Regions from separate parts of the Homo sapiens genome. Here regions 1 and 3 are each linked to region 2. Evidence: fine-mapped expression QTL. A gene starts in region 2. Each other region holds a variant in brackets. All regions are shown on one strand. Distances are from middle to middle. Region 1 overlaps KIZ (kizuna centrosomal protein). Region 2 holds the start of KIZ (kizuna centrosomal protein). Region 3 overlaps KIZ (kizuna centrosomal protein).

Region 1 (2,763 bases), 120 kb after region 2:
ACTGGTGAGGACTGCAGGAAGTATTGCAGGGGGGTCGAGAGGGGTGGGGGTGGAATTGGCAGGACCGAGGGCCAGACTGGATGTGAAGGAAAGAGGAGTGGAGACTGGAGAGGGGCTTGGGGAGACTAGTGGGTCAGGGGTGCCATTTGCTGAGACGGGAGGAGCTGAGCTCACCTGCCACTGTGTCCTTTCTCCTGTGTCAGGGGCTCCCTGCTGCCCCACCCCGCCACACCTTGTTCCCCAGTCCTGTCCTGTGAAGGCCTCTGCCTTTGGAGGTGCCGGGCTTCCTCTGTGGTCCTGCAGCTCCCCCAATCACCTGCCACAGTGCTCTCCATCCACCCAGCTGGCAGAGATCTCTCCTGCTCCCCCTGTGGCTCTTCTTGTATGGACCGCGGCTGGCAAATTAGCCTCTTTCCACCCCTCCTAGCATTTTTATAATCCACCCTCCCCTGCAGCACCTAGCCCAGTGTCCTCAGGTAGGGGGAGGTGGGGAAATAATAGACATCCCTGCAGTTGCATTTAGTGTGTGTGTGATGTGTGTGTCACTTTCTGTAAAATGGGTTCTTGCAGGCTCACCTCACTGACAGGTCCCCACAATCCTGGCAGCTCCAGGACTGTCAGTCAGCTGCTGGCCTTTCCAGATGCTCGTAGGGGTCTTCCATGCTTCATGGAGAAATGGCTGTGAGCACTACTCAGTCATGGCAATTAAAGAAACAGGCACTAAATTTAAAGGGAACACTGAAAGGTAGCCTAGAAAATGATACCTTAGTGGAGCATGTTTTTCTGAAAAAAAAAAGTAAATTATAGCAAAACGTAGATTTTTAAGCCAAAAGTCAACCACACTTGGCCCAAAGGGAAGGAAAAGATATATTTGCAGGGTTTCCTGTGTCCAGAAGAACAAGGCCCTGGCTGTGAGAAGGGCGGTGGTGGTGCGTGGGGTAGGGCAAAGTGTCGAGCCATGCACCAAGAATGGTTTCTCTCCCAACATCTCCTGTGACCATTCAGGCAATTCTGAAAGAATCTCAGCATCATAAAACATTCGAGTGACACTCCCTGAGGAGACTTTTAAATTCATTAAAATTGCAAAAGCTCCTGAAAAGGCACACAGAGAAATCATATCCCGTGGAGCCAGTTTTCTTGTCATATTGGCCTCAGTCGAGACGGTCCTGGACGCCAC[G/A]AACACTAGCATTTATGTGACACTTGCAGGGCCCTCTACCAGGTGTTTGTTTTGAACTCCTTTCTTAACTGTTAGTATTGCTGCCACTGGTTTGACTAAGTATTTTAACTTCCTTACCAACATCTTGAATTCCCTACTGCAAGTGTTTCATTTTTAGCTTGCCTGAAAGCACTGAAGTTTGATGCATCACTGTCTTCCAGAAGACTGTTGAGGGAAACCGGTCCCCTGCCTCAGGGGAACATGCGATCATCCTCCCCCAAGAACACGTGGCCCCACACAGGCACAGCTCAGCAGGGCGGGGTGGGCCATGCAGACCTGCCGAGGGGACACACGCAGGACGGGAGCAATGCTGTTGAGTAGCGACCCTCCCGACAAGGCCACGCTGCATCCCGATATTTTCCCTTTACTTTTAAACTCTGGGAAGTAAGTGTAAAGTTCTGGCCTCCAGTGAATCAAAGTGCTTCTTCTCTAATGCGTTCATTATGAAAATATTAGTCTCATTGTCTTTTCTTTTTCAGAACTTAGACTGTTTCTTTATTTTGCAGGCATGAAAACAAAAAGAAACCCGTGATCAATTTAAAATCTAATGGTGAGAGAGATAATCGGACACTAGATTTTCTTTTTCTGTTTTAACCAAAAAACTCTGTGACATGCATTTGTTGTTTGCACCCTCATGTGAGTCCTGAAGCGGGCATGCTCACAGGGACTGCCATTGCAGCTGTCCCTGGGGTGGAACCTGAGGGCTTCTGGAGGCTCAGTTCTTCACAGACAGGACCACACGGGTGCCATGGACCACAGGGGCAGAGCATTGTAATTTGCAAGTATGAATTTGCAGGGGATCCTGGCCTCCATGTCTAATTAATTATCAGCACCCTGTATTTTACCAATGAAATGTTTCTTGCCTCTCTCCTCATCCTCAGAAGCACCCATTGCTCATGACCGGACAGGCTCTTGGAGTAACTCTAACTGGTTTCCTCATACCCAGTTCCTCCCAGCTCCTGGGAACTCCCAGCTCCTCCACCTGGCCACCAGCCTCCAAACCCTGGCTTCCCCCGACCTTCCTGTGTAAGGACGGCCAATGCCTCCCCGTACCTTCAGGGTAGAGTCTGAGCTTTCTCCATTCCTGGGAGGCCCCAGCCCTGCTCTCCAGCTTATTCCTCCCAAGGTCGCCTCTTTGGGTCAAGCCACAGTCAGCTTTTTTCAGCTGTAGCACACCTATGCCTCTGTACCTTTGCCCATGTTGTTCCTTCTGTAGGGAGTTCCTTTTCCTTTTCCTCAGCCCAGTGAGCTCCTATTCATCCTTCAACACCCAACTCACGGGAAAAATCTAGCCCTCCTACCATAACACTGTGGCATATCCCCTGCCCAGCTTGGGCTCTCTCACCTCCTGTCTCCTTAAACCCCTTATACCTTAAATTAAAGGTATAATTTGATTAATAGTTTTACTGACAATAACAAAAATATTCGCTGTTTATTTAGCCCCAGTATGTCCCACTTTGCTAACCCAGTATGGAAACTGATTCAGAGCTGCTGTAGAACCTAGGCCTAGGAATCTGCCTTTTTAGCAAGCACCCCACTGTGAATCA
Region 2 (2,763 bases):
TACCAAAAAAAACAAAAATTATCTGGGTGTGGTAGCGCACACCTGTAATCCCAGTTATTCAGGAGGCTGAGGCACGAGAATCTTTTGAACCCGGGAGGCAGAGCTTGCAGTGAGCCGAGATCACGCCACTGCACTCCAGCCTGGGCAACAGAGTGAGACTCTGTCTCAAAAAAAAAAAAAAAAAAAAGGAAAGGAAGGCAGAGAAGCAGGCTAAGGCTTAATTTTTCTGCCCAGTGGGTTTTGAAATATGGTTGGCTTCCTTCAGGAAGCTTTTTCCCGACGTTGGTGATGATAATAAAACCTGATGCTTTCTATGTGCTGGGCCCACTTATAAACACTAACACATATTAACAATCGAATCCTAAACTAATCCTGTGTTAACAGCCTCCCACTTTACATATGAGGAAACCTGGGGTGACTTGCACACGGCTTGGCAGCTGGGACGTGGATAGGGAATGTACACCCAGGCAGTCTGGCTCCCGGGCTCCTGCTAGAGGATCCTACAGGACATTAGGAGCATTGTCCCTTAGAGCTGTCTGCACAAACGTCTGCTTCCCAAGCAACTAGTTATCAACTTTTCCCTCTCGCCAACGATACTGGCACCTGGAACAATCCTTAGATTCAGCACGGATTTTCGAGTAAGGGGTTGGTCCACTGTCGGGGCTGAGCACGGCTGTTTAGCATTTGAGGGTTTGTCTTTTTTTACTTGGTGTTTTGTGTCGCTTTTGAGTGCTGATATAATAGAACAAGCTTAGTACAGTGCCTGGCACTCAACAAATCCTGGCAAGAAAGGAGATCGAGGAAAAGAAGCAAGCGAGAGACGAAAGAAAGGGAGGGAATGCGCCTTGTAACATTAACGTAGCTTGTGCGAATCCTGGAAGGTGAGGGGAAAGGAGACACCGCGTCAAGGGAGAGAGGAGAGGGCACCGAGCGCCCGCCCCTCCGACGTGGTCCGCCCCGGCCTCACGACGCCCCGCCTCTGCCACGCCTCTTCCCCGCCCCATGCAGGTCTTCGTCCCGCCCCCCACAAAGCCGGCTTCCGCCCCGTCCCTCAGCGGCGCCCCGCCCCCACGGCGTCTTGCCCCGCCTCCTGCAGGCGGCCCGGCGCGGTGTTTACCCGCGGTGCATGGTGGGGCGGTCTCCTTCGGCAACCCCGGCCGAACGGCCACCCAGAGGCTGTGCTGAGCTGGCGCAGCGGCAGCAGCATGAGCCGGACCCTCGCATCGGCCGTGCCCCTGTCGAGTCCCGACTACTACGAGAGGCTGGGCCAACTCCAGCACGGGCTGCGGGACAGGTAAGGGCACTGGGGCGGGGGTGGGGAGTCGGCCCGCGCCGGGGGTCTTCCGCGTGCCCTGCCCCATTTTCCTTCCCGCTCCCCCGTCCGAGGTTCCCCGGGGCCCAGGCCCGCGCGCAACGCCCCCCAGGCTCCCAGTGGGGCCTGGAGGACAGTGTTTACTAGAGCCACCCCCTGTATTGGGGGTGGGAGCGGAGAGAGGTGAGAGACCGCCCCCGCCCCGTCAATAGCAGCTAAAGCCTGGTCTACGGTTTGAGGATGCGGCCGCGTCACAGAATTTGCCCAGAAGTGAAGGTGGGAGTTCTTCTGCCTGTCACTCTCCATCAAGCCTTGTGAGTTTCTCTTGTCCCCTTTTACACGCCCCCTCCCCACTCTCTTCAAATTGCCATCCCGCCGTGACAGCTGCACTGCATCAATGATGACAAGTCCTGGAACGCAGACGGTTGTGTGTGTGTGTGTCAAACATGTGCCCCCGTTTAAACTCAGGAGACTTTTAGGGGTAGCGAGGGCTGGCTAGATTTCCAGCGAAGGGATGAAATTTCCAGCTAGAGAAGTCCAGCTTCCAGAGGGTTCATGATGCCTTTGATTAAGATATGAAAGATGGGAACCACTGAAAACAGCTAGATCTAAGAGTGCATATAGAGAGAAAATTATACCGCAATGTACTATGAATAACCACGTAAAAGATAAATTGCTGGACCTCTTATTTAGCTGCTAAGTTAATTGGAGTTGTAACTCTCATTAGTTGACAAGAAAGGAAATACATTTTTGGATCTCTTGATAAACAAAACATTTAATGAGTGTTAAAAGTTACAAAATCATTCTAGTGAACAGGAGAGCTGTGTGCGTGACAGTGCTAAAATGATAACAATAATTACATGGAAAATAAAGGCAGAAGTGAGCGATTTTGAAAAGGAATTACATTTATCTTACGCTAGATTTAATTCTTGTCAGATATTTATAGAGCATCTACAACAGGCTTCCTTAATTGTCGTTAGCATTTTTTTTACCTTGTACTCCTTTTCTACGTCCTATTTTCTTTCTGACATGTCACCGCTCACCCATATCAGTGACCTCTTAATTTCTGACTTTAAAAAGAAATCTCTTCCTGTAGAGCCTTCCCTGTTTCAACCCATTCCCTAACTTTTGTGACTCTTGGCATTCTTACAGCACTCATAAATGGCATTCTTTTTGAACTATTAATTGTAAGTTATTTTTGTTTCCTGTGCTAGGAACACCTGGCTGTTTATAGTCCTTATGGCACAATAACTGTATAATAATTATGTACTTTATGATTAACACTTATTTAATTATTAAACAAGGTGAGGCTGTTGAAAATATATAAGGAATGTGAATCAAATTTTATAGCCTGTTCACGGTTCTGCATTTCGAGATTTGTTTTATTTTTAAGTCAGTACAAATCTGTTGCTGTGTGTGTTCATTTTTCATTTTAAGAATTTATAACTAAC
Region 3 (2,763 bases), 90 kb after region 2:
GAATTTATTTCTAATAAAATAAGTATGAAGAAGTTACGAAATCTTAACAAAACTAATCGCTTGGCAGTAGATAATTTTGATCCCTCAAAGATGAAGATGATTCCATAAAGTACTGTGAAGTTTTTGATATCACCTAATAGAATTTTCTCATAATTGTAAACATTACTTTTAATTATAATAGAACCTTATCAGTGTCTAAACAGTTGATTAAGAATCAATGAATTTATGCTCCCCAAATTTAATAACCCATTTTGAGCACCCAGAAACTGTGATTATTTAAGCATTACTGCTAAGACATGCCATTTAACTGCTTTAATGGTTTTCCAAGACAGCTATGAATTCCTCAGGAATTGCTCGAGTTGATGTACATGTGCAGGATGTGAGACTCACTTATTTTATGTCCCACCTAAATTTGATAGATGTCAGGCCCAGTTATTTTGCGTGAAAGCAGCATAGTGGTACCTTAATTCAATTTTATTTTTAAATTTTTGTCTATGAGATACCTTAATTTTAGAATAGGTTTCCTTTTAGGAACAGTATTGTTTCAGACAAGAAATACATTAACCAAAAAAAAAAAAAGTGAACATAAAGGGAAGGACAAACACCCAAAGGATCTATTCCTTAACTTTGAAATACTTTTTTTTTATTATGCATTCAATTTTTAGAAGTTTCAAGTGGCTGTGGAGACAAGAGCAAGAAAGAAAATGTGGCTGCAGATATCCCAATCACAGGTAAAGCTATGGTTGCCTAAGAGTTTCAGACACAAGATTTAGCATTATTATATAAGCGGAACATTTTGGGTCAGTGGTTTGTGGACCCCACTAAGAGCACATGTATTCAGCTACTGCATGCTGGAGCAGGAGATTAATCCTAAGAGCAGAACATATATACTTATGTTAACATAAACTAAGGTGGAAAATCACCGTGTCTATTGAATTCTTCATCACCATGTTATATATTTACACCTGTAACATCCTCCATCATGTGCCCTTTCAGCACCTGCGTCTCTGTAAAAAGGTCCATCTCCCTGGGGAACACCCGGTCATTACACAGCAAACTATAGATGTTTCTGATTTTACTGTTTTCTTTCCTGTAGTAATTGCATATGTATATTAAAATAAGCAGATAATAAAAAAATGTCAGATAGGAAGCTTGCGTTTGCCTCAGTTACAAAGCCTGTCTGATAATTTAAAAATTGTACCAATCGGGCTTCATCAAGACCTATTAAGATTTCTGCACATGTATTAGGCTTGTTTAGGTGGAATCTGAACGATATCATTATTTTTTTCTTTTTAGAATAAGAACAGCAGCAATTAGTATTCTGTACAGAGTTCTACTTGTCATACATCTGAATTTACTAGTACCTTATTTTGTGAAGTGGTGTACTACTTCATTATAAATTCAAAGGTCTGACTTTAAATATTTACACAAGTAAATACACCATTGCACCAAGGTACTGAGGCATGCATCTGCATATGTGGTAGTTTTGTTGTTTATAAGCAGAAAAGAATGGCTTGCTTTTATGGCAGTGCAGTTCCTGGCATGATTAATTTTTTAAACTCATGTTT[C/G]TGTGATGAACTCTGGTTTTGAAAAAGCAGTTTATGGTAGAGCAGTTATTGTATATATTATGCATTCAGATAATATTTCACTCTAAAATGCAGAGTTTTTTTATTTTAAACATTTTCACCAATGATATGTTTATTGTGTTTTTAGTCTGCATTTTCTGCAAACTCTGGTATGGCTCCCTGCTATTTTTATTAATAGAAATGTAGATGATCCCAAACTACAGATAACCATGAAGTCATTTGGATACTTTTCTCTTGCATTTACTTTTGGATGCAGAAGTATCTAATGGCCTCTGAATTTATTTCAATTAAAATTACAAAGGATTATTGAGGAGAAACCAGGAAATGACCTTGTTCATTCATTCTTCTCTTTTCAGTATTCTTTACAATCATCCCTTGCTGGGAGTAGTTGACTCTCCCCAAAGTTAATGCAAATGTATTTTCTCATATACTTTCTTTATAAGAAAACGGATAATTAAGTACCAGGGTTTCAAATCCCTTCTCATGCAGAAGTGCAATATGGCTAGAAGCAACTTGGGCTGTTTGCCATTAAGATTTTAAAAGAAATTGTAATTCCAGCAACCTGCCATTGATCCATCAATAGTTGGCAGTTAAAAAAAATGCCTTGTGCCAGAATATTAGACATTAAAAAAAGTACTTTGGAAATTTTTTAAAAACTTAGCAAAGCCATACACATTGTTAAGGTGTTACTGTTCTGTCCTTGCCAGTGTACTATCCCCACCCAGGGACCTCCCATGAAATTCATGTTTGAGAGCTTCACGCACCTTGGCACTACTAATACTGTTGCTTTGTCCATCATTGCAGCTACTTTGATCTCTAAGTTCTTGACCATCATCCCTTTATTAAATGTTTGTGACTTTGGCATAACTATTTGGAGATTTCACTTTTGGTAGAGTAAAGCAAGTATGTAGTTTAATTTAAGACAGAGTCTGTCTGCCTCTTTATAATAGTTCTGTTGGGGTGTCCTGTTTGTGTGGGTGCATGCTGGTTGTGTTTGTGTGGGCTGCATTCCTTCTAGAATATTCCAAAGAAAATATTCCAGAGGCTGTCCCCTGAAGGTTGAGGAAATGTAGCAGTTGGGCTGGGGCTTTGCAACCAGCCATCAGTGTCAGCTCTTTTACTCCTTGCTCTGTTTCTCTACCCTCTCTGAGCCTCTGTATTGGGAAAGCAGACATAC

What was found. PIP is the estimated chance that this variant, and not a neighbour inherited with it, causes the effect.
Region 1: its variant is the best candidate, but not a certain one, in a credible set for the expression of KIZ in whole blood (TOPMed, PIP 0.56).
Region 3: its variant is the best candidate, but not a certain one, in a credible set for the expression of KIZ in skeletal muscle (GTEx, PIP 0.60).

What each region holds. Positions count from the first base shown.
Region 1 is chr20:21,242,523-21,245,285 of GRCh38, forward strand. It overlaps KIZ (kizuna centrosomal protein), which reads left to right. Exons shown (of 13, transcript NM_018474.6): 12 at 1,723-1,766. Among named protein-coding and RNA genes, the nearest start is that of KIZ-AS1, 26 kb to the left of the region's middle. The variant G/A (reference allele first, on the strand shown) is at 1,178.
Region 2 is chr20:21,124,911-21,127,673 of GRCh38, forward strand. KIZ (kizuna centrosomal protein) reads left to right here and starts at 1,172. Exons shown (of 13, transcript NM_018474.6): 1 at 1,172-1,294. The coding sequence starts at 1,206. RefSeq lists enhancers at 641-740, 1,641-1,690 and a silencer at 901-1,480.
Region 3 is chr20:21,214,918-21,217,680 of GRCh38, forward strand. KIZ (kizuna centrosomal protein) reads left to right here. Exons shown (of 13, transcript NM_018474.6): 9 at 666-731. The region is part of intron 1 of KIZ-AS1 (KIZ antisense RNA 1); the gene reads right to left. Among named protein-coding and RNA genes, the nearest start is that of KIZ-AS1, 2.0 kb to the right of the region's middle. The variant C/G (reference allele first, on the strand shown) is at 1,569.